2 linked regions of the Homo sapiens genome follow. The protein of the gene in region 2 purifies or fractionates together with the protein of the main gene of each other region. This does not show direct contact. Each region holds a gene or a part of one and is shown on either strand. Other genes may lie near its edges. The genes, in order: PON2 and ITGA6.

The links.
Region 1: the proteins of ITGA6 (region 2) and PON2 purify together in Homo sapiens (affinity purification with mass spectrometry; 3 studies listed by BioGRID and IntAct, with this or other methods). This does not show direct contact.

Annotation. Positions count from the first base shown.
Region 1 is NC_000007.14:95,405,168-95,422,689, forward strand, and holds part of PON2 (serum paraoxonase/arylesterase 2), read right to left. Parts: exon of another isoform or gene 13,149-17,522; intron 11,131-13,148; coding exon 11,075-11,130; exon of another isoform or gene 11,022-11,074; coding exon of another isoform or gene 11,005-11,021; intron 7,311-11,004; coding exon 7,145-7,310; intron 6,613-7,144; coding exon 6,486-6,612; intron 4,935-6,485; coding exon 4,734-4,934; intron 1,902-4,733; coding exon 1,820-1,901; intron 1,081-1,819; coding exon 952-1,080; intron 322-951; coding exon 163-321; 3' UTR 1-162. UniProt on the Homo sapiens protein: Capable of hydrolyzing lactones and a number of aromatic carboxylic acid esters. Has antioxidant activity. Is not associated with high density lipoprotein.
Region 2 is NC_000002.12:172,470,968-172,486,108, reverse strand, and holds part of ITGA6 (integrin alpha-6 isoform b preproprotein), read right to left. Parts: intron 15,136-15,141; coding exon 15,004-15,135; intron 13,336-15,003; coding exon of another isoform or gene 13,219-13,335; intron 12,055-13,218; coding exon 11,844-12,054; intron 11,181-11,843; coding exon 10,987-11,180; intron 10,513-10,986; coding exon 10,424-10,512; intron 9,715-10,423; coding exon 9,596-9,714; intron 6,469-9,595; coding exon 6,370-6,468; intron 6,120-6,369; coding exon 6,058-6,119; intron 5,378-6,057; exon of another isoform or gene 4,296-5,377; intron 1,328-4,295; coding exon 1,167-1,327; intron 989-1,166; coding exon 845-988; intron 1-844. UniProt on the Homo sapiens protein: Integrin alpha-6/beta-1 (ITGA6:ITGB1) is a receptor for laminin on platelets. Integrin alpha-6/beta-1 (ITGA6:ITGB1) is present in oocytes and is involved in sperm-egg fusion.

The sequences.
Region 1 (17,522 bases), on a different chromosome or scaffold from region 2:
AAAAGTGCTCTAAGAACTAAAAGGGCCGTTCCTTACTGGAATAAAATTAACTACACATGCCATACATTTCTGGGTCAATGTTGCTGGTTAAATTCCCTCAGAATTAGCAATTCATAGAAAATTAATTGTTAAGTTATCGCACTTTCATGCCAAAAGTACAATTTAGAGTTCACAATACAAGGCTCTGTGGTATAAAGTGCCTATGAGCAGCTTCCCATCATACACTGAGGCTACAGAACTTCCTTGGAGAACAGACCCATTGTTGGCATAAACTGTAGTCACTGTAGGCTTCTCAGATAGAATGTTCTGGATGCGGAGAACCTATTCAGGGGATACAAAGTATGAATATAAGACCACCGTACATGCATGTCACTCAATCATCAATAAGCCCTGTTTTCCACAATGACACACTGATTAAGGGGACATGCTGTTGAAAATAGCAGTTACCAATCTTTTTAATGTTTAAATTAAAGTACTTTCTCCAATCTTCAAAGAAAGTACTTTCTTAAAACCATCTAGTTATTCCATGCCAACACAGGATTTAGTGTTATTATAGCAATTCAGCTTTAATAGAAATACTTTCATACTAATGTGCCTACTTTCACACTACTTCAACATGAACAAATATCACATCATGTGGTGAGCTGACAATAAATCAGATATTTTAAAAATTGCCAGTATACCACCCAAGAAGGGCACATGTCTTTATAAAAATGCCTTTTGACTAGTTTCCACCATAATTTAATACATCAAAAGATTACCTTTCTTAAAGTATTTGAACAATGTAACATTCTGCCAATTATTGGCTTAACGCAATTACAAAACCACGACATAAGCTTATTATATTATTGCTTTAAAATAACTAAACAAATCATCCCTGTGACAATTTATTGTATTATTAGTTCAAAAGGACTTGAATAATTAAGTTTAAAAAACTGAAAATATAAAAACCTCTGACGAGGGAGGATTGTTCGGGTCATACACGAAGAGCTTCTGGCCATTAGGATGACAGCCTACCCAGATGTCCCCCGAGGAAGGATCAATAGATAAATTATCCACCAGTGTATCCAGCTCAAGTACCTTCCAAATGAGAAATTGTCAAAATCTAAATGACATGAGAAACTTGATTAAATAATTTAGAGGTAACCTTCCTGCCTCTATGCATGTGAGGAAATTACACATCGCCCTGCTTCCACCTTCTAACACCAATATTGCTTAAAAGGAATGTATTAAAAACTGGTTTGGAGCCACTTTTCTTCTTCCCTGAAATTAAGAAAGTTAGGGTGATAATCGGTCTCTGTAAAAATCTATCTTAAAAACTGAACTCCTTTTCCTTTAAAAGATGCACAATGATCAGTTAGCTCAAGGAACTCAATCAAAGCAAGATAGGAAATTCTTAATCAACCTAAAATATGTGTTGTTGAGTAGGAAGAAAATAATAATGGTGTGGAACCCAATTTCTACCTTCATGTATTATTGAAAGAACTGACACTGTGCATAAACCTTCATTTGAGAATTCATCTATTAGTATTTTCAATTGTGAAAATTCTTATTGGAATTCTTCCACTGCCATCAATACTTCATGGAATGGGCCCTAAATCTGATGAATATCACTCTCAACCTGCTGCTGCATGTAATCATGGTCAGTTCTTGAGATCGCTGGAAACAGGAGCTTTCTCTAGTTGTAGGGAGTATTTAAAAACCCAGAATAGCTACACTGGCATCCATATTTTGTTCTACGTGTGGTACTCTTATAGAAAAACTATGTCATTGCAAAGCATAATAGATTACTGTCTATATGTAAAAATAAATATTTTACCTTCAACTGAGTTAAATTCATATTAGTGTGTTTTTCCAAAACATGAATTTCATGAGCCAATATGTCAGCAACATAGATATACCTTTGCAGAAAGGACACAGTGGTTAGAGCTCCATGCCAATATAAAGCTTCATTAATACAGTGTGAAAGAATAAGTCTTAATAACCTGCCAAGAAGTTAATCAATCATGGGCCCTCAAGGAATGCTTGATAAAGGTCAATTTTTATTTAAAAAGTAAGCTTTCAGAATCAATTCAGTGGTGCTACAACAATCATGGAATTATTAAATTGTTTTTCAAAAAGCTTGTAAGGAAAAATAATATAGAACATCATTTTGAATATGAAGTCCATATTTGCCACTGAAATGACAATAAAACAAATGCTTGGCTTCAGAAGAAAAGCTTTTACATTCCACAATATAATTTGATACTTCTAATTATCATGTACATATAGAAATATATGGTAAAGAACATCTTATTAAAATAGTGATCATTCCTTAATATTCAATAAAATATTTATTAATACATAGCGAATTTTAAGAGTAAGAGATAAGTATCAATGCAGAATAATCTGTCTACTTCAAAGGTGAGTGAATTAACAGACTATTTTGAGGTAATTTTACTCATTGAATTGACTTTCCATGGCACCTGCTCTGTTGAGCAATTATGTGTGAAAAGCCATGAACTCAGTGTTGCAGCAGATATAAACATGAAGAAGACACAGCCTCTCTCCTTGAAAGTTTATAGTGTGTTGGAACAAATCTCACTGGTTTGTACACATTAAACACCTAATAAGCATGAGAAATAGTTCAGGTCTAGAAATAGCTAACTTCCGAGGACACAGAAAGGCTCACCAAGGAAGGGGCATCTGCAGTGGCTGTGTAAAGAGAGATGAGATTTGAGATGAGGACGGAGGAGGCACTTCCCAGGCAGAAGCAAGCACAAGAGCAGAATCACAGGAGCAAGAAGAGGAAGGAATGTTTAAAACAATGAGTTCTTTGTCTAAAGCATAGAAAGCATGGAAATAGTAGAAAAGGGAGGTTGGAGGTGGCCTGTTAAACAAAGTCCAACCCTTTACCCTGCCTTGATTTGATAAGCAATTGGATTCCACTGAAATCTTAGAATAATAAAGTGGCAACAAATGGTCAGTTCTGTTCCACAATTCCTGAGCATTTGCTTTGTGCCTGGCACTGTACTGGCATAAGGAGTCAAAGGTGAGGAAGACAGAGTTCCCTCTTTGGGGAGCCCTTCAAGGCTAATAGAGATAGACAGACAAAATTGGCAAGAGTGAAAAAAATCCAAGTAGACAGAAAACAAATTGGAAGAAAGTCTCATATGCTAGTCAGAGAGGATGACAACCTAAATTAGGCAGGTCTCACTCAAAGGGAAAGGAGTTTGGGGGTAGAGGAAGGAGGCACAGGTAGAACCAACAGGACCTGCCTACAGGCTGGATAGGAATGGTGAAAGAGGAGTAAAAGCTGATTCTCCCTTTTCATTATTGTTATTTTTTTGTTAGCTTGGGTGATTGGAAAGTTTGACTCTCATAATGGAAATATAAGAGTGAAAAACAGATTTGGCTGCAGAGGTTGGATCAGGTCAGTTAGAGACAATTTAAATTAAATGATTCTACATTCTTTTTCTATAGTCAACAAGAAAGGAGGAGAAATTGGATTACAAAAATAAGGGCATTTAGTTGTCAAGGAGTGCCAAATTTATTTTATGTTGTATTTGTAGTAGTTTAAATTTTTCAGTGTGCTGAGGCAGTAGATAAGAAAGCTATCAAGAATTTAATATCTTCTCTTATAGGTTGTGGTTGTGCATATAAAAATAATGAGATAATTCTGGAGGACAATTTGGCAATATCTATTAAAGTTAACATTTAAAAGAATCACACTGTTTGAGCAAATAGTTCTATTTCTAGGGGTCTGTTCTACAGAAAAGTAGCTCATAGAACCATTTAGCCAGTGCCCTGGGTGGGATTTGAACCCAGGCCTGTATGAGTCCAAAATCTGCAAGTTTAACCATTATGTTATAATACTCTCTTAGAGCCAGGTGTGGTGGCATATGCCTGTAATCCCAGCACTTCGGGAGGCTGAGGTGGGCGGATCACCTGAGGTTGGAGGTTCAAGACTAGCCTGACCAACATGGAGAAACCTCATCTCTACTAAAAATACAAAATTAGCCAAGCATGGTGGCGCATGCCTATAATCCCAGCTACTTGGGAGGCTGAGGCAGGAGAATCACTTGAACCCAGGAGGCGGAGGTTGAGGTGAGCTGAGATCATGCCATTGCACTCCAGCCTGGGCGACGGAGTGAGACTCCATCTCCAAAAAACAAAACAAAAAAAAAACACTCTCCTAGGGACTTTTTCTTTAAAAAAAATACTTGTTTAAAATTCCATGGTAAATAAGAAGTATAAAATATTTTTTATGTAGAACTCCCCACCCCTATACACATATCCATCAATAGAGAATTGGTTAAATTAGTTTAAGATCATCCTTATAATGGAATAATGTATAGCCAATAAAAATAATACATTTATTTAAAAGGAAATACCTGATACTTCAATATGTATGCATCAGTATGATCACACTTTAAAATTTATATTTATAAAATTAAATTTGACAATGATGTATTCCAAACTTTATATATTATATATAAATACATATATATTACTGTATTATATAGTTTACTTAAATATGGTATTGTATTTGCATATAAATACATGTGACTAAGTATATGTAAATATATATACAAAACATATATAATTATATATATAGTGTATCTATATATTATATGTATAATATACCATAAATGTCAAGAAAACTATTTTCACATTGACAAAGAAAGCAAAGTAAAGAATTTGGCCAGCACCACAACTGAAGAAAAATGAAGATATTCTATAAGGGGCCATACTTATCATCAGGTGAAATATTGATCCCATTTGCTGAATCAAATCCTTCTGCTACCACTTTAACTTCATTTGGACTGTAGTAAACAACATTTGCCCAGTGTAAGTTCAAGTATGTTTCTAAATACTTTAAGAAAGGATCAGAGAAGTAGTGGTCATTTGTGGCATAGAAATGTGCCGGTCCAACAGCTGTGATGTCATTCACACTGAAAAAGAAAAATAGCATGTGAGAGGAAACAAAAGGCCTGTTGGTCTCCATATTAAATATTAAGTACTCATAAGATTTATGCAACATGTGCTTTAAATTTTTGGTAAGAGGAAAAGACGAGCTAAAAATCACGACTATAGTCATATACAATATACTATAATATTGTTGCCAGAGAACAATTTTGTATGGTACCAGGTAATCTGAACACAGGTCATTTAGCAATTATGGCAGGATTACCATAAGAGAAGAAAGAACTTAGTGCCATCAGGGCATGTTTTTTGACAGCAAGAAATGTAGGGTTTAACAATTATACGTAAGGACAGAGCTGTCCACAGTACAGAGCTGGAGAGAGCCTGATTGGCTGGTGAGCTGGTTAGGCAGTCAGTAACATTTACCTAGCTTCCATTTACTCAGTTCCTGGATTTTTCTAATTTCCCTGGCTTAGTTATTAGTCAAACTAAGGTTGACTGTTCAATTTCTACCTGCTTCACAAAGCTGACATGCCGAGAATGAACAGGCACTCAATAAACACTTGCAGAGAGATGGATGATAAAATTGCCATAGTACAATGCTTCAGGTGAGAGATTTATATGCTAAAAACAATTTCATTTTAAGACCAGTTAGGTGAGGGTGTTATTAAATTTAAATTCCAATTACTCTATGCAAAAATTTCTGAAAGAGCTGCTTTATTCTTTGCTAAATGAAAAATATAGAGCTACAGGGAAGGTAGGTCTCATTTTTCTGAAAGAGCACCATAATGCTTGGATGGTATTTATGCTCCTATTTTTTTTTATCAAGTGCATTTTTGGAAGGAATGATTGGAAGTTACATGCTTATGCCCTAGATAGGCATAGATAGGCCCTAGATAGGCAATATTTTTAATTTCATTAGAAATGAAATTTCATTAGAAATTAAAAATATTCATCAAGTTTAAACTAAAAGAAGCAGTAGGCTAATACACACTGAACTGGGGGTGGGGGTACACATGATTCTCTCTTAGCCACATTTTCAACCAGCTTTATGTTCTTGAAGTGTAATGACTCACTCTCAACTTGAGTGGCTCTAATTCTGTGGGATTACTAGCATGCAACCATCACTAACCCTATGAAAGCGATTGGTATAAAGTCCCATGCAAAGCATACAAACCCAATAAAAAACAGGCCATTCTTCCTTGGCAAGACACTCATCTGGGTGATGAGTCATCTAAGATGGAGGGTGACAGCAGGAAAAAATGTTAGGGTTTGCCTTCTACCCTCAAGATGGGCCTGAAGAGTATCACCCTGTAGTCGGGCACTTCATCATTTCTCAAAGGAGTCCGCATAGAACAGTGAATAGTATGAGTGACATCAACTTTCATATGCCATGCTTGCCCTGGTTTATAAGGAAACTATACACACACATTTATAAATAAGGAAATATAAGCTCTTTAGCTCTTACATATTAGCTAATATATACATTAGCGCTTATAAAAGATGACAGGACAACCCACCATAGGGATTGTTTGCAAATGCTGGGGATAAATTAGAGAAGGAACAAAATGAGGAAGTACCTTGGAAGAAGCTCATGTTTGACTGTTTTCAGATGCAACAGAGAATTTTCTGCTTCTTCAAATTTAAAAATTTCCACTGTATTCTTGAATTCTGGGTGGTTTACAACAAAGAGATAAACTGTGTCATCTAAAGAATTGAAAGAACAGAGTTAATTTACAAGACATAACTACGGGACCTCTGGGCAGGCACTGACATTTAAATACCACAGGCAAGGAAAGGTTGAATGTATAAGCTGTTAGACGACCTAACAGATCATTCTCTGTCTTTCCTATTGCTGTCCGTCTGGTGTTATTTCTGATCATTGGCTCCCTGACCTTTAAGAAAGTGTTTCCTACTCCATATACAGAATTCATGCATAATCTGTTTCTACTTTAATTCAAAAATACAGTTCTTTTTTAAATGTGATGATCGTAGGTATATGAAAAGATTATGAAATCTAAACATTCTTTCAGGTGTTACCTGTTAGGAATTTCAAAATGTAGCATAACTTACTGCCAGCTGAAGAGGCAAATGAACAAGTTCTTTGTAATGAAGAATACAGAAATCACTCATGAGTTAATTGTTCTTCTCTTCCTAGAAATATGATCCAAATCTATTTTTCACAGTCATTTGTGAACCATCACACGTTACTAAATGTTGGTAGCCCATTGGCTCTTACCGTTGTCTATGAAAGTGCTGATGCCATGTGGATTGAATGAGGCCAAATCAAACCCACGACTGATTCTTAATTCCCGTGCCCTTGGTTTTTCTTCTTTTAGATCCATCATTAGTATTCCTCCAGGCTTATCTGGTGCAAAGCTGTGGAGTCCTGGGAATTTTAGACCCTTTCCAAAACGGTGAAAAATGTTAAATACAAAAGCTTAAGTATTTTTATGGACTAACATGGGAACTGTACATGAAGGATAAATAGAGATTGTGGTTAAAGTAGTGGCATAAAGCCACAAAAACTCAAAAAACAGAGAAAAGATAACAGAAAAAATAATAACGGGGAGGTGGAATACTGAAAGCCTGAAAATAACTGAAAAGAAGATCAGGGATTTATTCTCTTCAGAGAGTAATCAGAAGGTTGGTGGACTAGGTGATTCCAGGGAGAGCTGAGGGTGGAGAAAAGTGACATCTACATACTGACTGTGGAAATTTGTTCACTGCTAGATCCCAGTGCCTGGAACAGTGCCTGGCATACAGTCCATCCTTCTCCCACTGATTCAAAATATCACCTTTATCATGTGCTAGATCTCTGACATTTACATATTGGTCTATTTAGGGACTCTCTGTTTTGTTATTTTAATGTCTCATGTCTATTCCTGTGCCAATATAACACTTTTTAAATTACTACAGCTTTAGGTCAGGCCTGGTGGCTCATGCCTATAATTCCAGCACTTTGGGAGGCTGACGTGGGAGGACTGCTTGAGGCCAGCAGTTTGAGACCAGCCTGGGCAACATAGCAAGACTCTGTCTCTACAAAAAAAAAAAAAAAAAAAAAAAAAAAAATTAGCTGAGTGTTATGGTGAGCACTTGTAGTCCTAGCTGCTCGGAAGGCTGAGGTGGAAGGACCTCTTGAGCGCAGGAGTTTAGGAGTTCAGGCTGCAGTGAGCTATGATTGCACTACTGCACATCAGCCTGGGCAATTGAGCCAGTCCCTGCTTCTCTAATGACAGTTTTGTCTTTTTCTTTTCTATCTCACATTTCTTTTTCTCGTTTTACTGAATTACTAAGAACTCTAGTAGATTACTGATGGTTGTGGTGTTGGGTATTTTCTTCCTGTTCTGAGCATTAATGCAAATGCAGCCAATGCTTCACCATCAAGAATGATGTTTGCTGTAGTTTTGTGGGAATTTTCCTTATCTTTCTAGTTTGCTTGGAACTTTAGGAATGAGTATTGAATTTTATTAAATGCTTTTTGGTACTCACTGAGATGATATAGGTCTTTTCTCTTTTAAATCAGTTAATAAATTACCTATCAGTCTATCTAAAATGGTGATTCATCATTACATTCTTAAGGTAAAGCCTTCTTGGTGATGTTAAATTTTATGTGAATGCACTACCTAATTCAGTTTACTAATACGATGCAGTCATATTTACACAAATTTAGGCACACAATAAAAAAGTCTTACTTTATGTATAAAATTGGACATAAGAGGAAATCTCTCCAATTAAAAAAGATTATCTACAATTGTATATTTTCATGGAGGGCAAGCCTGGTAAGTAGAACAAACTGGAATTATGCTATTGTTACATGGCAGTGCCACTTCAGTTAATCCCTATTCTTTATGAATGTCCCCAAAACAAAAGCATGATTTACATGCAAAGGAAGCACTATCAGATGGTGATAACTAGTCATGGTTATGTTCGCACTCCTTATTTATTTAAGTATTTTTTCTCTTTTTAAAAATTTATTTTTAATTATGATAAAATACATACAACATTCATCACTTTCACCATTTTTAAGTGTACAGTTCAGTGGTGTTAAGCACACTCACATTGTTTACATTTTTTATATTTTATTCTATGTCATCCAATTCTTCATGAAGTGTGACATTAGTTTTGAGGTGACCCTCAACCCATAACTGTAAAATAGGTTGGGTTAGATGAGCTAAAATGCTAGGAAGAAGAATGAACAACCTCCACAATGTAGGACCTCTTTATTTAGAAGAGAGTACACTCTAGGTTTTATTAGAGACAATGCCAAGTAAATGAAAAACAGCAGCAAACTGGGAATGTTTCTAAATTTTAAAAAAAGTCAAATGAGCAAAGGAGGGTAACAGAAAAAAAGCAGAAAAAGTTCTATTGATATGGCTATAAGATCTTTGTAACTATAACATGCCCCCAAGCTAAAATGGCTGTAGATTTATGTGTTTGGAGACCTCATCCCTCCTACTTCAGATTTATTACTATGGGGGCTGGAGAGAAATCTTGAAATAGGTGAATTCTAGATTATAAAAATCTCCAAGAACACATCCTTGCAAAACAACAACAAAAAACACAAATAAACAAATAAAAAAATCAATGCAACTGCCTTCTACTTTATTCAGAATGTTTGCATCTTTACTTATGAATATTTTAGACTAGTGGTCCCAGTGGTTTTTCCTAAGCCACACATGTGCAAGCATGTGCTCCTAAACAAACCCAGAGTCCTACTATAAATATCACTTTATTCATTCTGTGTAGGCAATTAAATAAAACATTCCTTTTAAAACCTTATTTTAAAAACTAAATACATATACTGGTGTTTCTGCTAAAGCCCACAGTATCTCTTTATTGCCTCAGTGGTAATAACCAGCTGCTCACTGTCTTTCACATAAAAACCATCAGGAACCTGAAGAGTGTTCTAATTCTCATTCTACTCCAACCTGAGTTCTCTCACCTTTCTCATAAGTCTAACAACTATTTTATTAGTGTGGTGACTCCCTTCTAAGTATCTCCCAGTATTTCACATCCCTCTTGAGTCTCAGAGCCTGAAAATAATGGATGTTGAGAGGAAATGGAATAATTACAGTCAGGTGTCAGAGTTGGTTACTTCTTCCTCCAGAAAAACTGGACCTATGAAGATGCCAAGAACTCCTATGTCTGCCCAAGCCAGGGAGGTAGGTGGTCAGAACCTCCTCATCTGTCCCCTTATCTGGATTTCCAATTAGAATGGACATTGTTACAAGCTAGTTTCAACAATATTCACAACAATATTCACAAGCCAATTGTTTTTAAAGTCTTTCTATTGTATACCCAGAAAGGATATTGTTTTTCAGCTTACAAGAATCAAGGCAAAATGAAGGGTGTAAATAAACTCAATGACTTTCCACTTATGATTGGCTATTCAGGGGAAAAAAGAAAGAAAGCAAAAGGGCAAGGTTGGTATAATATTTGAAAATAAATAATAATGGCAAGAATATTTGCTTCAAGTTGAATAGTAATAGAAAGATGAGTAGATGCTGTATTTAAAATAGTATAATGTTAGTATTGAGTATCCACAGTAAGACCTCAAATATCCCTCTTAATAGTGCACATTTAAAACACAGATTGCGCTGGGCGTGGTGGCTCACTCCCGTAATGCCAGCACTTTGGGAGGCTGAGGCAGGCGATCACCTGAGGTCAGGTGTTTGAGACCAGCCTGGCCAACACGGCGAAACCCCATCTCTACTAAAAATACAAAAATTAGCCGGGCATGGTGGCGGGCGCCTGTAATCCCAGCTACTCGGGAGGCTGAGGCAAAAGAATTGCTTGAACCCGGGAGGCGGAGGTTGCAGTAAGCTGAGATCATGCCACTGCACTCCAGCCGGGGCAACCAGAACAAGACTCCGTCTCAAAAAATAAAAAAAATTAAAAAAGAAAAAACAAAACAAAACACAGATTGCATTGGAATATTTTAGTGCAATGCAATGGGGAAATAAAGAACACTATCTCAATGGGCAAAGAGTCTTCATCTCTACATTTAGAAAAGCTGGAGGAAGTTTTCCAAGATCTTGTTTGACCTCTCTTTTCTTCAGAATGCATTTTGGAAAATGAATTTTAAAAGCAACTTACTGTTCTGCAGCCCTCATCAAATACCCTTGTATCTCCTCTGCTGAATTTGGGGAAGGAAGAAGACACTCACCACACTAAAAAAAGCCAGACCATTGGGAAGTATGTCAATATCTTCAGAGCCAGCTTCTGTAAGTTTAAGGAACAGATAAATGTCATGTTCAAGTTCTGTTATTTGTTACACAGAGCATAACTGGGACTCTGTTTACTTTATCAGAGTGACTGTATCTTTAGGGATGGTTCTGATGTTTTTTCCAAGGAACCATTCTTTTTAATAAATGTCAGTTTAAACCCCTTCCTGAAGTGAACTTCTGACTTTAAATGTTAGATATTTTATGTTTACTCAAATCAAAGTCAAGTTATCACCACATTTCCAGCTATAATACTGAAAAAGTTGACATCTGTACACTCTCATGATAAACATCCAGATGTCCGTATAAAAGTAATTGACATCAGGGGAATATTACTTTCTGAAGGAAGGGCTCATAGGCATTTAACCATGCAAATATCCTTGTCCTCTTCTTTGCTCATTCAATCTGAAGCAAACAGACATCTTTCTCATTAACAGAGGTAAAACACCTGGGATTATATATTCCTTCTTTTAAAAACAGTGCCTACTTGTGCTCATAAGCAAAGAAAGCTTTTCTATTTAATCTTTAAATTTAGGCTTTAAATTAGAGAAAAAAACTAGCAGAAGAAAATTAATGAAAAATACCATGCACCTAAGCCAGTTGAAGTTTCTAACTCCTGTCTCTGAGGCAGGCTACAATTACTATTGATTGTTTATTGACTGTCTGCAGTACACTCCACACAGCACAGCAAATAATTAGACATAAGACTTTCCCCAGCAGTCTCACTGTATAAATTCTACAGACAGATAATAGACCCAAACACAAGAAAAGAAGAATAAAAATGGCTTAGATTAAGCCAAACCATGACACATTCTTTGAGTCTACAAAATCCAATCTTCCTCTTTAAGACTTCTCCATAGGATTTCTTCAAGGTTATTTCTAGGTTGTCAAAACCAAACAGCATCTATCTATCCAGCCATTTTGGTCTTGCTTCATGAGTTTGCATTTAGCCAGTTGCCTCCAGTGTTGCTTGCTCCATCGTAGTGCAGAAAAACAAAACAAAATAAAAATGCCAAGAACTTCACATTGTAAAGATGACCCATCTGCCTGCTCCTCAGAAAGAAGATACACAGAAATAAGCTTAAGCATGGCATAGCGGAGGAGTTCTCAATCTGGGGTCTGTGGATCACTTTTGGGCTTCAAAGTATCTGTGAACCCTCGGAAATTCTATGCAATGCAAAATGTCTCATGTATGCACAGATGAGAACGTTTCTGTAAAAACGGTCCTTGATTTTCATCAGATTCAAAAAAGAGACTGTGATTCCCCCAAAAAGGTTAAGAATGACTAGACTCTAGTTCCACGGTGGTTGTCCACTGGTAATAAGTTAAGAATCAGGGGAACGCTACACCACATACACATGTATACACAGCACATACACATGTACACACAGACACACACACACACACACACACACACACACACACACCGAGAGAGAATTCTAGTCCAGGTTTTGCTTTTCAGTCCTATTTAGTAGAAGCTCAATTAATTAAAATTTGTTTTTCCTGAAAATTATTTTAGAAAATTTAATTTCCAAGTATACACGTGGAAAAAGAAGATATATAGAAAAAATTAACAATGCTTCTTTGATAGGATTATGAATGATTTTTATTTTTTTCTTTATACTTTGTTTAAAATTTTCTACAAAATTGTATATTTTTTAATAATTAAGGAAAGAGAAATCTTTTTTTAAAAAAATACATTTATTTCAACCATATTGTAACTTCTGTTTAACTCCATTGCCTAATTCCAATGGAAAAAATGTATCTATCTGTAGCCTTCTTTGGAATATTTTCCAGATCTTCTCCCCGTCATCATTTCTATAGCCACTACTGCAGGAAGGTTTTATCATCGTGTATCCCCTCTTCGGTGTGATTATGTCAGGAGCAGTCAATGCTAGAGAAATTTTTGCTCCTCTAATTTAATAATAATAACTAACATACATTAGGTACACCAAGTACCAGGCTCCTTGTAAATACCCTGCATACAATATCTCATATGATTATCTTTTATTTTAGAGTGAAGACTATTGGAGGCTTTGGAAAAGTTAAGCAATTGCTCAAGGTCACAAACTGGGAAGCTGGGACTCAAAGCCTTTGCTCTGACTTAAAGGCAAACAGAAAATATTCAAGTTAGAATTTAATGAATTTCCTCTCTCAGAAACATCCCCTGATTCCTCTGTAAAGCCACTTCACTTGTAAATTCAATTGTGGTCAATTCCATATGTTGTCTTTTTCCCCTGAAGTTTTGCTTCCAAGCCTCTCACCAACATCTTTACCAATGAATATCCTGCACTTTTCTTTAAAACCTCTTTCAAAACCTTTTCTGTCTTTTTCGTATTTCAACTTATTTTATTTCAAAACAAATTTATTAAATCTTTACTTTTTTTATTCTAGTGATATACATTAATTTCAATATTGCATTCCAGGTGATATTTATGTAAATATGTGAAAACTTAATACTGTGGGCTGATTTGGCACTGTTTGTCACTCTTATTGTGTGCTTGACTCTCTCCCTCCCCTTCATCGGTTCTCTCTCTTTAAACTTTTTATTATGGGAAATAGACACAAATCAAGAGAATGGTGTGGTGAGCCCTTATATACCCAGTACCCACCTTCAACAGTTATCAGCTCATGGCCAGTCTTGTTTCCCTTGCAGTCCTACCACTTATCCTCATCCTGTGTTATTTTAAAGCAAATCTGAGGCATCATATTATCCCTAAATATATTTATACAAACCACAATATCATTACTACACTAAAAATTCACAATAATTCCTCAATATCATCAAATATCTAGTTAGTGTTCAAATAGCCAATCATGTTTAAAAGGTGTAGCTTTAAAAAATTACAGTTTGTTTAATTCAGAGTCCAGGTAAGGTCCCACACATTTCAATTGATTGATGTGCCTCTTATTTCTTTAAGTCTACCCCGTGTCAGTCCATTATTGCCTGTGGGCAGGAGGACTTAGCTCCCTGGGTGCACTCAGAGCTTTTGGTAGCCAACACTCAGGGAAGTTGGGGGGGATCTGGGGAGGGTATCCACTGCATCCACTGCTCAGGGGAATTAGGGGGAGAATTTCCAGGCACAAGGAACAGCATGAGCAAAAAAACACATGAATGGCACAGCGTAGCATGACAAACCCTTTCTTTAGAAAGTCTCCTAGCTTAGCACATTTAATTTCCATCTCTTCTTATTACTTTAGCAATTATCTGTGTCAGAGGTGGCCAAGTGTTCACCAGCATCCATGTTCCCCTTCTTCCTTTTTAGCCTTTTTAGCAATAGGCACGTAGCAACACAGCTATAGATAACATTGCCCACCCTTTCTGGCTGACAGATGTGGCCATATGTCTAAGTTTGGGTCAATAGGATGTGAGAATACAATATATATGCAACTACTGGGTAGAAAAAAAAATCTACATAAATTTTCTTTCAACCCCTTCCTGCTGGGAAATGGCAACAAGCAGAGTTCTAGTCTTAGATGAAGACAGCTGTGTTGCTTCATCAGCATTTGCCCCTGAATGACCATATGGAACACAGTCACCTAACTACCCTAGGCCATTCACTTACCTTAAGACTGATGAGAGAAAAATAAAAATAAACATCTCTTTTCTAAGTGACTATAATTTTATAACAGCAACGCATCCTTTACTATACCCAATAGAGCATCCCATATGTAACATATTATTTCCTACTTTTCTGGTTCACTCATCAAGTATATACATTAGTCACCCTGGGAAAAGACACTATATTGGAAAGTGAATTTGCAAAAGTTGCTTAACCTCCTTGAGCCTCAGGTACTTATCTGCTAGAGAAAGAAAAGACATATCTATATCTCACAGTGGTTTTTTGTTTTGTTTTGTTTTCCTTTTCTCCCATCAGTAGACTGTAAAGTACTTGATTATAAGGGCCACAAACTTTAATGCTTTTTTCCCCTCAATCTCCCAAGCAGCAGTTATTGTAAAGGTCTTGACTGCCAAGTGCATAAAATTGTTAGTTATCTTGAGAAAGACAGTCCACTCAAATTTTGAAGGCCAGACATTTAGAAAATCAGATTTTTTAACTTTTAAGCCTCAAATAAAGTTAACTAGCTCTTGACATTTTAATATGCAGATGTTAATCTGCCAAATCTTGGGTGTATAAAAGCTTAGTTTCTGTCTATAAGATAGATCGGGAAGGAATTTTTGAAAAGGACTAAATAGTGAACTTATTTTCTGACCCACAGAAGGCACACATCCTGTATGATATGTAGTCAATAACTATGATTTATTAAAGCAGACACAATATGATATGATATATATAAAGCACCCAAAAGTTGCACATAGTTCACTTCCAGTGATGGTGACTGAAGCACGGTAGTGTGTGCATATGTATGTGTGTGTTGATGGGAATCAAGGGCAAGGGGGAAGGAAGGTTCACCTCTTAGAGGGATTAGTTGGCCTCAAGTGCATAGCTACTACTGTTTTCAAAACAGAAAATAAGAAACAGCCCTCTCTATCATAAAAAGTCACTTTTGCCTGTATAGAAATGTGTGTCCAGCACATTGTTATTTCTTCTTATCAAAGACCTGTGAATAAGCAACTGTTGTTAAAGATATATAACCAAAAGTTATTATTAACCATTATGCATCACTAACATAGCATTCGACAAACGTTCATATGGTGTGTGCTAACCACAGGGCAAAAGCAAAAAAGAAAAAAAAAAGGACAATTCTAATTAGATCTAAAAATGTATCCCAAATGTGCTTCTAATCACTCATCCTCTCCGCTCTGTTGCCTTTTGAAGTGCCTCAGAGGCATTTAACACTTCACAAGAGGGGCCATAGGTGACATATTTCCTCATTCTTTCCAATTCCAGACAGCAGCTCACACACATCACAACATAAAGGTCACAAACATAGACAGATGCCTGTTCAGAATACAAATGTTGCTGGGCTTGTTTTTCTCTGAGGAGCGCTCCATCCCAGTGAGTTGTAAGAGGAATGCACTTGGCAGTCTGTCATGTAACATGGCTGGTTGTGCCCTATTGTCTACTCTGAGACTTGTATTCACAGAAGGTGGGCTTCCCAGGGCCAAGGGCTGTTTAATAATGTGACAATTATTAACTCAGCAGCAAAAGTAACCTAAGAGATCACTGGCCCAAACTCCCACCCTTGCCCAACATCTTTTACTAATGCCATCTGGCTTTTGCTGAGTGACCAGTTCTGAGAGGGCTCTTCTTGATTGCAGCTGGAAGGCAAGATGAAGCTGCTAAGTTACTTGGGACTCTTGAACTGTCTGCATGATCCAGCACAGATGTAGTCAATCTGCTATTTGATATGAGTTTGCCTCCTCCCACTTAGTGTTTGGGCAATTGAAAGAAGGAAGGGAAATTCCAGGACAGCCAACCAGTCTAGGGGAGGGGAGGTAGAACTGGGGAAATACAAAAGTATCAATGAAAAAAAGGAGAAAGAACACATAGGAAACAGATGCCTAAGGAATGAGAGGCAGATCAACCTGAGGAAGCTGATTTAAAAGAAGAAAAAAAGAAAGGGAGGCAAGCAAGGTATTTGTAGAGAAACTCTGAAGGTGGCACTGTCAACTGATGGTTTATTTTTACTAAAAGAGTGCTGAGAACTCTGTCTGGAGTGAATGTGGTTACAACTATGAGGTACTGAGTTTATTACTGTTGCCAAATTGAGAGCAACTTAGCAATGACTGTCAAAACTCTAAACACATATTCTAAGGGAACAACAATCCCATTGTTAAGGACATATTCTACAGACACACAAACTCAACAGCAATGATGTTCACTGATTTGTTCATAGTTGCAAAAAACTGTAACAACCCAAATGTACATTAAAAGGGGAATGGTTAAATAAATCATGGAATGTGAAAATATTAAAAAGAACAAAGTAACTATATATGCTGATGTGGAAAGCTGCTCACACTGTTTTAGGAATGAAGAAGGTTGTGAAATATTTACACTAAAATTCTATTTGTGAAAAAAAGAGTCAATATATTTGTTTGCAAATGCACTGAAACTATCAGGAAAGATAAAAAAGGGAGCTTTATCTTTGGGGTTATTTCTGTTGGGGGTGATGAAGAGTTTGATGAGAGATTTTTATTTTTATTTACTTTCCATTTTATATCTTTCTATATTGTTTGCACATACACTGTTTATATGAACTTTGCACAAAAAATACTGTGCAGTTGTGAAGAAAAGGTAACATTATGTACAAACATAAGTTTCCAAAACCTAGTATTAAGTACAAAAAGCTAGTTTTGAAATATTATGCATAATTTGACCTCACTTATGTTTTTAAAAATTATGTACAGGAGTATTCATAAAAAGAAAAAGATGGAAGGACACTCAAAACTTGTTTAACAATGTTACCTATTCAGAGAAGAGAACA
Region 2 (15,141 bases):
CACCTGCCGGGTTTAAGGCATTCTCCTGCCTCAGCCTCCTGAGTAGCTGTGATTATAGGCATGCTCCATCATACCCGCTAACTTTTGTATTTTCACTAGAGACGGGGTTTCACCATGTTGGCCAGGCTGGTCTCAAACTCCTAACCTCAAGTGACCTGCCCGCCTCGGCCTCCCGAAGTTCTGGGATTACAGGCATGAGCCACCACACCCGTTCATCATCAATTAGATTTTGAAAGCAAGAACATAATGCCAAATCAAGCTGTCATAGCTGCCCGGGCTAACCTTGCACCTTAACCATCCTAAACCCCTAGCAAACAGACCCCACCTCATATGAGGTATCCCACAGGCCATCTAATACACATTTTTCTTCCAAAGATGACTTAGGCTATATTAGGCACTAAATGACTACTGTATGCTAATAATACTTTTTTGCTTTGCTGAATTTTGATATTCCTTGATTTTAATGTTCTGACTAGCAACACACTGCTTTCTACATTTCAGTATTCTCAATGGTAAGTAAAACACAATGTATTTTTCTTTCTATGTACAGCTAAAGGAGAAACAGTGTTAGAATATAAGCTCTACCATTTATAGTCTCGATAGGTTATAATGGCCAAAAATGAAGAAGGAAAATACGCTCTGGCCCCAAATTGTATTTCATGTTTTTATGTTTATTGCTAATTTGGGAAACAAGTCTTCTCTAACTTTGCGTACATTAAAAACATATTAACACAAAAGAATGGCCTTTAAAGCAAATCACTAGTTCTATTCCCTTCAAAGACATTTGATTTAGCATCATAAATGGCAAAAAAACTTTGGCAAAATGAAAGTCAGAGAGACTTACATCAATATGAGCTGTCTTGGGTTCATCTGAATTCAGAATTGGAAGAACTTCTGGAAGTGAATTCACTCGCCTACGAGAGCTTGGCTCTTGGATCTCCACTGAGGCAGTTATGGGAATGGGACGCAGTTTATCTCTGATATTATCCTGCATGAAAAGCATGCAGTCAGAGTTAAGTGGGGTGTACATGCTATTGGGGAATTCCAAAACAATGATTTTGTATTGATTAAGAGGTTGCCAGAATAAATTTCAGAAATCTGTATATCACCATATAACCTTTTTCTGTCCTCTTCATAAAACAGATGTGACCATCTGCAGCCCTCACCTGTAGCCACAGGGTTTCCTCCATGCACACTTTCTGTTTCTGCCTCTTCAGAGTTAGTTCTTGAGTATATTTGGGCTCAGAACCTTGGTTTCGAAACTGAACTCTTGAGGATAGCCCAGATTTTCTTCTTTCTTTTTCAGCTTCAAGTGTGCCCACAATTGCTAGATAAAATTAAAATCATATTAACGTAAGTGCATTCATGCACAATCCAGCCACAAGCATGTTGAACTCCTTTTAAGATTTTAATTCCTTGTAGAAAACATTGCCATTGTTTCTCTTCATATTTCCTGGTAATATGCATTTGCACAATTGTGATGGTTCAAATCAAGCTGTCTTTTCCTTCCTTTTGCTGTTAACAATGTTTCAAAGTTAAATTTTCATTGTGCCACCTGGGGGAGCTCAAGAATAAGTTAAAACCTTTCAGCAGCAGCAGTTATTAAGAATCAGTTTCTGGCTGAAGTTCATGAACCCACAGAATACTAACGATAAGCAGAGGAACCCAACACTCCCCCGAGCACCTAAACTGATTTTCTCCCTTTAAACCAGTCAATGCTTATTCAAGTGGCCTCGTGCCTTTGCTATCTGGGAAAGATCTCTAGAACAGCAGCATCTCCTGAGGGCCTGTGAGGATGCAGAACCTCAGGCCCAGTCACACCTACGGAAGCAGAATCTGCTTTATTAATAACAGCATCACCAGATGATTCTTATACGTATTAAAGTTTTAAGAAGCACTGATAAAGGATAGTTGTCTAAACAGAGGAATAATATATTTTAGAGATGGAGAAGTCTTTCGACAGTAGGATGAGACCTTTACCTTAACAAATAAAAAAGAGGATGGGCACAGTGAATTCTGCCTGGCATCCCAGCACTCTGGGAGGCCAAGGTGGGTGGATCACCCGAAATCAGGAGTTTGAGACCAGCCTGACCAACATGGTGAAATCCTGTCTCTACTAAAAATACAAAAATTAGCTGGGCTTGGTGGCGCATGCCTGTAATCCCAGCTACTCGGGAGGCTGAGGCAGGAGAATCGCTTGAACCCAGGAGGCAGAGGTTACAGTGAGCTGAATTCATGCCATTGCACTCCAGCCTGGGCAACAAGAGCAAAACTTTCTCAAAAAAATAATAATAAAGATAAAAAAGAATTACAAGGTAAATTATATATTTTTGAGTGGATGGAGGGCCTGTCGGTCAGCATAATATAGCTCCCACAACCAAACTGCCTACCTTGCACTGGGCTAGAAGGCACAGCCTGTTCTTGATAACCTACACTAATGGAACCTGGAGGGAAGCTAGGATGTGGATGATCAGAATCTCATTTTTTTACTTCAGAACGCATTCTTTGTTGGTTCATTAGATGTGGCTGCTAACTTTGTTTTTCATGGGCCAATACTTAAATTACTTACATTCATTAAGCAGTCACTAACCATCAAAAGGGAAAGCAAACCAAAGTGTGCAGAGGGCTGGAGAAGGCAATCTCCAGGACAAAAATCTGCTACAGAAAACACAGAAAATGAATAACTCACATTCTAATATTCACTTTAGAGTTGGAAGAGACCTTTTCTGGGGAGGCTTGGGGTCATACTGAGAGGGACAGAAGCAGCACCAGCTTCTGAGTCTCTATCACAAACACAAAAGGCGATTGCTTTCTACAGGGTCTTAGATGCCCAGGTCTCACTTGCCTCCTAACCACCGCAGGAGTCACTCCTTCCCTCAGCCAGCTGTCTTTCCCTTCTTTTCCCTTCCACCTCCCAGCAGTGTTGGCCTGCTTGGCTAAGCCCTCCCTTCCCCTTCAGATTTCAGCTTGGACCTCACCTCCTCCAGGAAGCCTGTCCTGGCCTCTCTTCGCGATCCTAGAGTATTCCATCTCTCCAGTCTCTACATTTAAGCCCACTACGCTGTGATTTCCTGATTGTCTCCCACAGTGGGGCAAAGCCGAGGACAAGGATCACATCAGTCTTATTCCCCACCACAGTCCCCAGCAACTAGCACAACACCTGATAGACATATGATTTATGGAACAGATGAACAGAAGTGGCAGTAACTGGTTCCCCACTTGCACACACATGCGCACACACACGATGTGACATTCTTATGCTGAATGTGAGCTATTCAGAACAAAATTTAGAAACACTGACAGTTTCAATAGTAATTTTTGTGTCCATCTGGAGAATTCTTAAATGTCACAGCTGCCAAATGGAATGCTCCCCCATTTTAGGCCTCTGCAGCCTTGACATCATCCATTTATAAGTGACCTGCTAGCTTCACAATGAACCAGATAAAGGCTCACACGCTGAGTGCCCCTCACAGCAAAAGTGCCCCTCACAGCAAAAGTATGGGAGGTGTGGGTGCAGGAAAACCGTTTATCTGCCAAATTCACTCTAACCTTCCCTAACCCTCCAGACAGTCCACATCATCTTAAAATCTTTGCAGGCCACCTTTGCTAACTGCTTGAGGGGCAAGCCAAGTAGAACACTCATTACGGCTCAATTATAGATATCTATATGTATGGAACACCACATCTGAGGACTGCTGAGCTAAAATAGCCCAGTCAAACAATAAGCTCACATTCTTGGCTACTGGGAGAAGATTTTAGATGTATTAACTTATGTAGCTTTGTAGAAGTTCTGTCTTAGTTCATTTAGAATTTACTGTGGAAGTAAAAGCAATGAAAGCAAATGTTCTTTGAATGTCTTCAAAGGAAAGTTCCACCCATAAAAGGCCATCCATAAACACTTGGTTAATGGAGTAGCTACATAACATAAAAGTAATACACATGGCATCAAATGCTGTGCTACAGCTAGGAGAAAGTCTGTATTTTATATAGGTGATTAATTTGGGGGAAGTCAAGGAGTGCTCTGATGATATTTCACATCTACAGTCAAACTGAGAGTGGTTTGAAAAAATGGCCATCAGAACAGAATAAAAATGTTTCCCCTTTTTCTCTGGCTGCCTAGTCAAAGAATCACTGTTTTCTCCTTGTCTCTCTAATTCATTCCAAACACTGGCAAAGGGCCCATTATCCAAGTGGGCTAGTGTAAGGTATGGCATTTGGGTAAAAATAACACAAATGATACTGAAAGGATGATAGATCCTGAAGAGTCACAGTATACATTTTCTTGTCATTAAAAGCCACACAAAGAATTGCTTTCTACACTCGACAAAATGCCGGCTGCATCAAAAAGCAAAGCAAAAGGCCACAGCTCCCCCTGTGCACGAAGTCATAATCCATCCACTCTAAGAATGCTTCGTGCAAGGTCTGCAGGTCCCATGGAGAGACCACACAGCAGGAGACGACCCCACAGAAGGGGAGACGGAGAAACCACCTGCAGACAGCTCGAAATCTGGAAAGATGAAGGCTAACTGAGCTTATGACACTGAGAATCAGGTGAAGGGGGACTTAAAAAAAATTAAAGACAGTACATTTATTTAAACTGTCCCTTTTCATAATTCACTGAACTTTATCACAGGTCAGTATCTTCATTCTGTTGTCTTAGTGGATACATTCATTAGTGTTATATAAAACTTCATATAAAGTTAAAGAAGAATTAGAGTACAGCTAAGAACAGAGCTGTGACGTGTGAGAGGATTCACCATTGCAAACCCTAGTCCTTATGTGGCTATTTTTTCCTGTTTCAAGCAACAACTTTAGGTTATTTGAATTAGGTTATATTCTGGAATATTATAAGGGACATCTTTTTAAATAAAGAAAACTACTACTTTAGATAACAGGGAGAACACTTCAGAGGACTCATTACCTCATAGTATCGTAAAGGCTGACAACCATATGAAAGGACAGAATGACCTTGTTCTTCACAAAGTGTCCCTTGGTGGCAGATACAGTACACTAGAATCCCAAACTGCCAGGACCATGGCCGGACCCGGGTTGAGAATTTCCTCATTCTTTTCACTTCCTCTTTGCAGAAAAGATTTTCTTGGAATTCCTATGCCCCTGGCCTTGACTCTGGAGCCAGGGGTCAGGTGACTCACAGCTGAAGAAGTGTGGCTGCTATTAAAACATGCCAGAGGAGAGCTTACGACGGCCACTATTGTTAAGAGTATCATTAACGGTGTCAAAATTCTTGTCAAAAATCCTGTGTTGCCCCATAAATATATACACCTACTATGTATCCACAAAAATTTAAAAAAATCTTACTTTGAATTACAAAAAAAGGAAGCAGAACAGTATCTAATAAATGACAAAGTGCTTTTCATGTCTTCTCAGTTGATCTCCAGCACAACTGTATGCACTAATGACTACTAGGCATTGTTCTGAACGGACAGGAAAGCAAACTCATATGTTAAGGGACTTGCCCTGTGGGTCAGTCAGTATCAAAGCTGAAACCAGGAGCAGAGACCAGGTCTCTGACCTCTCAGGGCCGGCTTGCAAATTCCCTAGGGGCCTGCTCTTGGGAACACAGGGCGGGTGTTCCGGGAGGGAGGGGCGTGGGGAAGAGAAGGCAGCCTGGCAGTGACTCTGTGCTGTGCTCTGGCTCCTGCCGTTGCCCTTTCACAACCACCAGCCACCACCCACCACCTCACAACCACCAGCCACCACCCACCACCTCACAACCACAAAATCAATTTTCCACACTGCTTTTCAAAGACAGAAATGGAGGAAATGGTTGTGGTAGCAAATAAGTACTTTTCCAAGCCATTCTGTCCTAAACCATCTGCTCTGGAAAACTCAAATGGCGACCAAGTGGAGTTTTTTTCCTCCCTCACGGTGCTGTGCCCTCCTGATTAAAAGGGAGACAAAACATACACTTAATTCTTTACACCAGAATTGACAGACCCATGTTGGCCACTGCAGTTTTATTTTTCTGTGATTTATGCAGAACTTTCAACCTGGCAGACAGAAAGTAGACATATTTTAAAGGTACTAGGTACTTACATATTGAAGGATTATAACCAGCGGGGTTAGCAGTATATTCAAAACAGGATTTAACCTGGAGGCTGAATAAAATCAAACACATATTTCTTAAAAGATCCATTATTGCAGTGGAAAAAACCCAACATGTTCCCTAGCTCTCCAATCCCCCCAATGCCCATTGATGATCAACATGTTATAAAAACACTTGACAGACCCTCTTCCCTTTGCCCAGCACTCCTGTCATCTTCCCTGTGGCTCCTCAGGACAATAGAGTCATCATGAAGTGGAGGTGGGAAACTGAGGGGGATCCCACCAAGACAGAGGGATGCTCACCATATCCCACTAGGCGCCCCACACGCTGTTTTCTGGCGGAGGTCAATTCTGTTAGGAGTTACTGTGATGGTTTTCTGAATATTAATCACAGGCCGGGATCTGAAGACAAAAGGAGTGAAAAACAAGCTCAGCCTCTGTTACCTTGAATGTGAGTCTAATTCACATACTAGAGAGCATCCTTAGCTGCCCAGCACAGCTTAAAAACACAGGAAAAAAAATACACGTGACGTTTTCCCCCATTGCTGAAGAAAATAACTGTTAATAGATATAAATGTATACAATGCAGAGCCTCATTATACAATATTTGTTTAAAAACGTACACACTTATGAGTACATGTGCAACATGTGGGGGTTAAAGTAAATATTTTGTCTCCATTCCCACCCGAACACCCAAGTAGCCTTGTATGTTCTTCCAGACACGTCAGTTAAAATTATCTAAAATTAAATATTAAAATATATGTATAATTTCAACTAAATGGGAACTTAATTGCCATTGTTCTGTATGTGGCTTTTTCTCATCCATTTCAGAGGTCTTGTCCTGTATATACACATAGATCTAGTTCACTGTTTTTCACACCTGATGGCGTTACACTGTATCAGTGTAACATCCTTTATTTAACCAGTACCTAATCGGTAGACATTCACGTTGTTGAGCTTTCTGCTTTCACAAACATCATCTGTGCACACACTTGAGTTTATCTGTGGGATAAATTCCCAGCAGCAGAATTTTGGAGTCAAAGAATATGTGCATTTTTAATTACGAGTAGTCTTGCCAACATACCCTCTGGAAGAATTACACCAACAAACACCTAATACCTGAGATGCTCATGATCAGCGTGTCTACAGTATGTGAATTAATACAGGCAATCCTGAACTTGGGAGTCTCCATTGTACAAACACTTGCCCTTCTCTTCAGCCTCCCTCGGAGTCTCCCACCCACAACCTTCAGTCTTTGCCTTCCTATTGCCAGGATTGACAACTTTTCTACCCCCACGATATCTCTGCAAGCAAAAACTTAAACTTTTAAACTTCTTCCCATCTCTGCGCTGCCTACTGCAACCCCGCAAACACTTGAGAAGCTGGAATCCAATTCCACGCCCTACTCTGGTTCACCATCTGAAAACATCTTTTCGTATGTTTTGGCTGCCCTGCTCCCAGCAGCCACAGGGGTCTCCACGGGTCTGTGGCCCAACTGCTGCCACAGGCACAAGAAATGCAGGTATGCGGTGGGTTGAGGGGTATGAGTGGGTGAGGAGGCCCACCTCCATTGCTCCCCACCAGAACTCAGAATGGGGCCTGGGGTTTCATTACCACGTGGATTCAGTTAGGCTGACTCTGATGGGCTTGTGGTAAACCCAGCCATTCTGGAGAACAGTGTTTCTACAAGAAAATGCATTCCAAATCCCAAACAGCTAGCTCGAACTTCTGGAATCAATCTGTTGGTAGGCTAGAGCACAAGTCCATTCACAGTGAAGGTAGGGTCCAATAAAGGGTCAAATACTGCCCACATTCCCTGTTTTTCCATTTTCCTTTATTGTTTACCATTCTATTTTTATTTTACATTTAGACAGCTGCTAGGTTCTAAGATACTAACTAGATACATTCTTAAGTTTTGAGAGCATATTTAAAAGGCACAGTTGCCACAGATATAGTATTTTACATACTGTAGAATTTTAACAGACATTTCTGCCTAGAACATATTTTGTTTTTTAAACATACAACACACAATTTTGAGGGCAAAATATACATGAATTATGAAAACTGTGTCTTTTAACATAGAAAATAAGTCTTATTAGTTTGGCTGCCTCATGTTTAAAATTGGTGTTTATTTACTAACTACCCTGAAGTGCTAGTACAATTTAGTAGAAAAAATGCACAGGATTCAAGTCAGGAAGATTTAGGTGCTACATTCTGTCCTCTCAGGCTCCAGCCTTAAAAGCTCAAGCCAAGTCCTGGGCCTCAGTTTCCTCATTTGTAAAATAAGGGGAAGTTACTCCTCTTCTTATCAAAGGGTTGTTGAATTCTACTTTCACACTATCTGCAAGTAAAGAGGGAACAAGTGTACAGGGTTGACAGTCAACCTACTTATGAGGACAGGAAAGTAAGGATATTAAAATATCAGTTACACATAGACAGGGGCAAACATTTAACTGACTAAAGTTAAGTCATCTATTGTATTGACAAGGAGAGATAGCCCAAGATTAAATAAAAACCAGATTAGACAGCAGAAGTTACAGTGTAGCCTTTTGATGATACCCTAAAAGTAGAGAAATGCACACAAGTTTTGTGGAAGATGGGAATAATGTACTGGATTTTCTATAATTCTATATTATTAACTTTAAAAAAAATAAATCTGCTACTTTTTGAAAATTAAAAAACAAACCAAAAAAAGCCTCCAATTTTTAATGGTGATTTCCAGCAGTGATGAAAGCGCTGGTTAAAGGGAGACTCAAACACCACGGATGGGAAATGTCGCACCATTTTGGGAGGTCATCTTGGCGAAACCGAATCAAAAGTCTTGAAGCACATATATCAATTTCACATCCAGGAATTTATAATAAGGAAATAATCAAGGATATAAACAAAAGTAAGAATGTTTTCCACAGCTTTTTATATCATGGGAGCAAAAAAAAAAATTGCGAAGCAACGTAACCATCCAGTGAGAGCAAGGCAGTTGGTTAAATAAGCTCTGAACCTGTCAGAAGATGCCTCACAGACAGTTGTTAACTTCATTTTGGAAAAGTACTCAGTGACATAGGAAAAGTCTACTATGTATCCTAAAGAGACAAAAGCAGGTTACAAAATTATGCACAATTATGGTCTTAATTTTGTTAAATATACATGGTCCAATCACAGAAAATAAAATAGAAATCAAGATCTTGGAGTTTAATAATGCATGGTGAATTATAGGGGGTTTCCTTCTGTATGTTCTTTGTACTGTCACATTTTATATGTGTTTTGTTTTTTTCATCATCAAAATTAAGGTTTTAAAAATATATGAAGTAAAAATTCTAACTTGGATCTATGTTTTCCTCAGATACTTTAAAAGATTTTAGAAAATAGGTTGTTATTACATTGTTTACTAACTTCAAAAGAAAAAGAAATAGCTTCACAATTCATATAAACCTTTGAAGTATAGGTATGACAAATTTCAGTCCAAAAGGTCAACATTTTAGTATAACCTGATTATAGAACATGCTTAACACTAAAATCATAGATAACAGACCTGAAAATAGTTACTGAATCTGAGAGGGAACCAACAGCAACATCAGGGTAGGAATTTCGATCAAGGTCCATGTTTCCAGCAATTGAATATCCAAAATAAGGTGATATACCCTTGAGAACCTGAAATACACAGGGCATCCGAATGGACATTAGGTTATCACCATGAGCTTCTTAACAATGCTTTGAAAAAGACACACAAGTTTCTTTTGAACTGAAATTTGAGAGTTCACTTATAAGTAAATTATATTATATACAAGTCATAAATTTCTATATGATCTAACACTTCATACATTTCATTTCATAAAAGTCATCCGATTTACATAGTATCTCAAAGCAGAAAAGAGCCCATTTCTGATGAGCTTGTTTATTGTATTAAGTCAATCAGGCCATTTCAAACCAAATCTCCCTACCTTCCCTACAAGTCTTATTTTTCTCAAAAGACATTTTTAATTTTTGGTGTCTACATTCTCCATGTAGTTACAGTCATTTATTTTGTTTGACCAATTTCATCTCTATTTAGTATGCTACTAAAGAGAATATATCGTATTTCCTCTTATCTTAATGCCGTCAGGGTAGAATAACATTCATTTGCTTTGGATTACCTTGATTCCTAACTTATCTAAGAAATTTTACAATTAGAACAAGCAAGTCATTACATTTATATATTTATTTTGAAGGTATCTTCTAGTAATACATTTTTAAAAAATTTATACTATTGTGGACTTGTAAATAAAATAAGATTTGTGTGAAAAGTCACTTAAACCTAAATATTTTATTATAGGGCAAAAAGTTGAGACTCTAGCTGTAGAAATCCCGGTTATTTGGTTACCTGTGTTGGTTTGGTATTTATTCCATTTGCAGATCCATGATAGATAAAAACCTTTCCCAAGTCATCATACGGAGCTCCAACTGCAATATCTGTTGACAACATCACATTTTAACATTTTAACAAACGCTTTAGAAACACTCTAGTAAAATGTTTTAAAGTAAGATGACACAAGCACTATTATTTATTTGTTTGGCTTTTTCGGGGTTTTTTTTTGTTTTTTTTGAGATGGAGTTTCGCTCCTGTTGCCCAGGCTGGAGTGCAATGGCGCAATCTTGGCTCACCGCAACCACTGCCTCCCGGGTTCAAGCAATTCTCCTGCCTCAGCTTTCCAAAGCTGGGAGTAGCTGGTATTACAGGCATGTGCCACCACACCCAGTTAATTTGTATTTTTAGTTTCTCCATGTTGGTCAGGCTGGTCTCGAACTCCCGACCTCAGGTGATCCGCCCACCTCAGCCTCCCAAAGTGCTGGGATTACAGGCGTGAGCCACTGTGCCCAGCAGCGCTATTATTTAAACAATCAAATAATCTATAAATCATAGCCATTTCATAATCTATTATCTACCTGGGTAGCCATCTTGATTAATATCTCCAATATTTTTTACTGCAATGCCAAACATAGAATCTTTGGTTCCATTAAGACGAATTGGCTTCACATTATTCCATCTGCCTTGCTGGTTCATGTAGACATACACTGCACCTCCAACTTCTCCATCTCTATCAAAATACTGTGGGGCTCCAATAACTATATCTTGCCACCTAAAAACATAATGAGGGGAAAGAGCCGTGAACCAACAGCTAACATACCAGCAACACCAGTCTAGGTACTAAGGATACAAAGACATATAATAGAAAGGCCCTCAACTCCAGAATTTATGACTCAATTATAACATTTTTTAAAAACCAAGGTAGCCTATAATAAACGCCCCAAGAAAAATACTAAGGGTAAGAACTCAAAGCCAATTTCTCGAGTTAGAACCATAGTACAGCAGGACTCCCATTAAGACCTCACTGTTCTAACCCCCCCAACTGGCACCAACAGCCACATATCTGTTTTTTACTTTATCACCAATTCCTGTTTTCAACGGGAGCTGATGCTCCATCAGCCCCATATGAAACCACAGAACAGAATCATGCAAGTGTTTTCTGAGTCAATTTTTTTCAAATTTTAATTCTCATAGACTCATGATCCCAACATATAAGTAAAAACTGAAAATCAAAAATATAATCCTATACGCTGGGGAGGGATATGAATGTCTGTCTGCTGCCATCATAGAAATGATAAAGATAGGCTGGTAAAAATGCGGCAATAAAAATATTCTTTACGTCAATGAACCTGAAAGGACGGCTCTTCTCCAGTCGTATAGAAGCTAGTCAAAGCAGAAATGATTTGCAGCATAATATAACCTGAGGCTTTCTCACCCATCCTTGTTGAGGTCCACCACCGCCACATCATAGCCAAATGAAGAGGCCAGACCTTCTCCATCGAATATGTGCTCAGGGAGGAGATGTGCAGACTTCATGTCTCTCTTCAGCAAAACCACGGCTCCACTGTGATTGGCTCTGGGAGCACCAGATACAAAAGTGATCTCATCTTTAGAAACAATACCTTTCCCTGAGTCCAAAGAAAAACCTAGAAAAACAAAATATATAGAGCCCCTCACATCAATCCATATATTTTAGGCCTATGACATTGGTAACTCCATCATTACCTCTTCCTCTGGCTTCCCACCCCTCTCTCCTCTTGACCCTCCCACCAGCTATCACATTCGTAATATGAGTGACAGAGTTCAGATGTGACACAAGGACAAAGTCCTGGGGCTAGCTAATTTACTGCTTTCTATGGATATTAAGACTTTTAACTAAAAGCACCTATGTATAACTTGAATTTTGAAGTATTCATACATCTTAAGAATCAATTTCCACCCTATTTTAATATTGGAACTATGGTAAAAGGAGATCAAGCTAGATACTGAATTGTCCAGGAATAATTTGGTTATGTTACATCATATACACAGAGAATATATAACCTGACTGGAAGCATAATTGAGTGCATGTTACAGGGTTCTGCTGTAATTTAATGACCAGTATTTTTACAGGAATAAAATAAAATTGAAGAAAAAGTAATTAAGCTTGGTAAGAGGCATCAACTCTTTGGTAATCAGACAAAAACAAATGCTAACATCATTAATACACCATAGATAGCATTTCATTGTTTTGGACCAACTTAGTTCTCAGACACAAACATGCAGACAAAACAATGACTGATGATACATGGTATTTGAGAACCTAGTATAAACAACAGAGGTGAGGAAGTTGTCATTGGTATCAGTTATATACTTGTTCAGAGGGCAGAAAACATTAGGACACACCCATTATAAAGCATCAGGTAGGATGTCAGATTACAAATAACAGATCTGGTGAAAAGCAAATAGAAGTGCCCATATCAAAACCATTCAAATTAAGTAAATGTTTCTATAGAAAGGTGAGGCAGATGCAGAATAATATAAGCTCACCCCCTTTATTGGGTTTTACTTATGAAAAGCTTCACCACTACCGTTGCAGTTCTCAAATTGTGAAGTGAATTGAAAAACATGAGCCACCAGATTAGAGGGCAATATGGAGTCCAGCTCTTACAACCATCTGGCCACAGAGCCCCAGCCATGGCATGCTTTTTGTGTGTGCTTCAATGGAAACAAAATAGGGCATAAAAAGATTTATGCTCTGTATGGATCAAAAAAAAAAATTTAATGACCACAACCAAGACAATTTATTTGTCGTCGCAGAGGTCACAAACCTAGGTAGCTATTCATCATCACATCAGGGAATGTGTCAGGCTGCTCCCGGGGAGGCCGTGTTTTATAAACAAACTGATCAGGATCTGTATAGGAAACGCTGGTCAAAAACAGCAGGCCTGTACGCATGCACGGGACGGAAGAAATTGAAGAAAAAGTAATTATGCTTGGTAAGAGGCAGGACAGCCACTGCTGTTCTCGCTGGATGAGGAGGCCACCACTGCATCCGGCAAGCTGCTCTCATTGCCAGCTTCCAAAACCTCAAGCAGATCGTTTTGTTCCCCCAAACCCTCTGATCTTTTGAAGTGACAGATTCCACACAGTACAGACAAACCGAATGTAACAATATGAATTTGATTTCTTTCTCAGGCATTCACTTTTGAGGAAATCCATTCTAAAAGTGGCAAATGTGTTTGAGAAAAAATGCTTCATATTTTCAAATGTTCTGACAGCAAGTAAATTTATAAAATCCACAGCCATCCATCTTAAAGACCAAAGTATTGGTTTCTTGGCCAGTGCAATTACAATCAAGTATTTTAATCATAAGTAATCCCTAAATGAAACATTCTGAGGTAAGGTCCTGCTCTGTTGCCCAGACTGGAGGGCAGTGCTGCAATCACAGCTTACTGCAACCTCAACCTCCCAGGCTCAAATGATTCTCCTACCTCAGGCTCCTGAGTAGCTGGGACTACAGATGTGTACCACCACGCCTGGCTAATATTTTTGTATTTTTAGTAGAGAAGGGGTTTTGCTGCATTGGCCAGGCTGGTCTTGAACTCCTGGCCTCAAGTAATCCGCCTGCCTCAGCCTCCCGAAGTGTTGGGATTATAGGCGTGAGCCACCAGGCCCGGCCTGAACAACTTATTAGTGCGTGTTTACTAGCACATTGCTTGAAATTATTCATGTATCTATACCTGTTTTTTCGTTTTTTACTTTCCATTCTTCCAGTAATATCCTAACATCTGGGTACTTTTCTTCACTTTCTTTTTTTTTTTTTAAACAGGTTACTATTTGGGTTTAGACTTTTTTTTACATTTTTTCCAAGAAATGCACAGTAATTATTCTTTTTGTCAACTCATACCAAGAATTAAAGCTTTTAAAAGCCTTTGTGTAATTACCATAATGTACATGAATAACTTAGGACACCCATTAGTCATGCAAACAAGCCTTAGGAGTTAAGAATTGGCCCTTAGACACAGTCTGGGTGTCCTGAAAGCCGTTTTAGCAGTCCTGCTCAACCTCCGCTGGGAAGCTTTTATCCATCTGTGGGGCCCTGTGACATGGGGTCCCAATCCAGAAGCAGGGCTAATCCTTGGAGAACCACAATCACAGAGGGAGGACCTGGAGGTCTTGACTTGCCACTTAAGAGTAACTTTATTAAATGCAGTTCTTAAGAGTATCTCTGGAAGGAGGCACTGAACAAAGATCTCAGCTTACTGTGAACACCCATGCATGTTTTCATGGCTGCATGAGCGGCCTGTTTCAGGTTACGGAGGCTGCCATTAGCTCAAGAGACAGACTTCTGAGCAGGAGGGAGGACGGATGATTTTAGGTGATAAGAGGTTTCTTCCCCCTTTGAGGGAGCCCCAGTCAGAAGGAAAGGATCCCAGGCATCAGTCGGTTTAACGCCTCTAGATCACCAAGCTTATCAAATTCCAGCAAAAGTGGCCCGGCCCCACCTGGCCTCTTCTCAGCCTAGAAGTCCAGGGGCCATAGGCCCTGCGAGGGAGTTTCACACAAGGTATCTGAGAAGGTGGGCAAAGGCAGCCATCTGTGCCTGCTCCTACCTAAGTAACTGTTAGCAGGAACAGGAACGAGACTTTCATCATGCTCAGTCTCTCCACCAACTTCATAAGGCCCATCTTCAAAGATGTTCATGTCAAAAAAAGTGTTATTCTTTTGCTCTACACGAACAATCCCTAAAG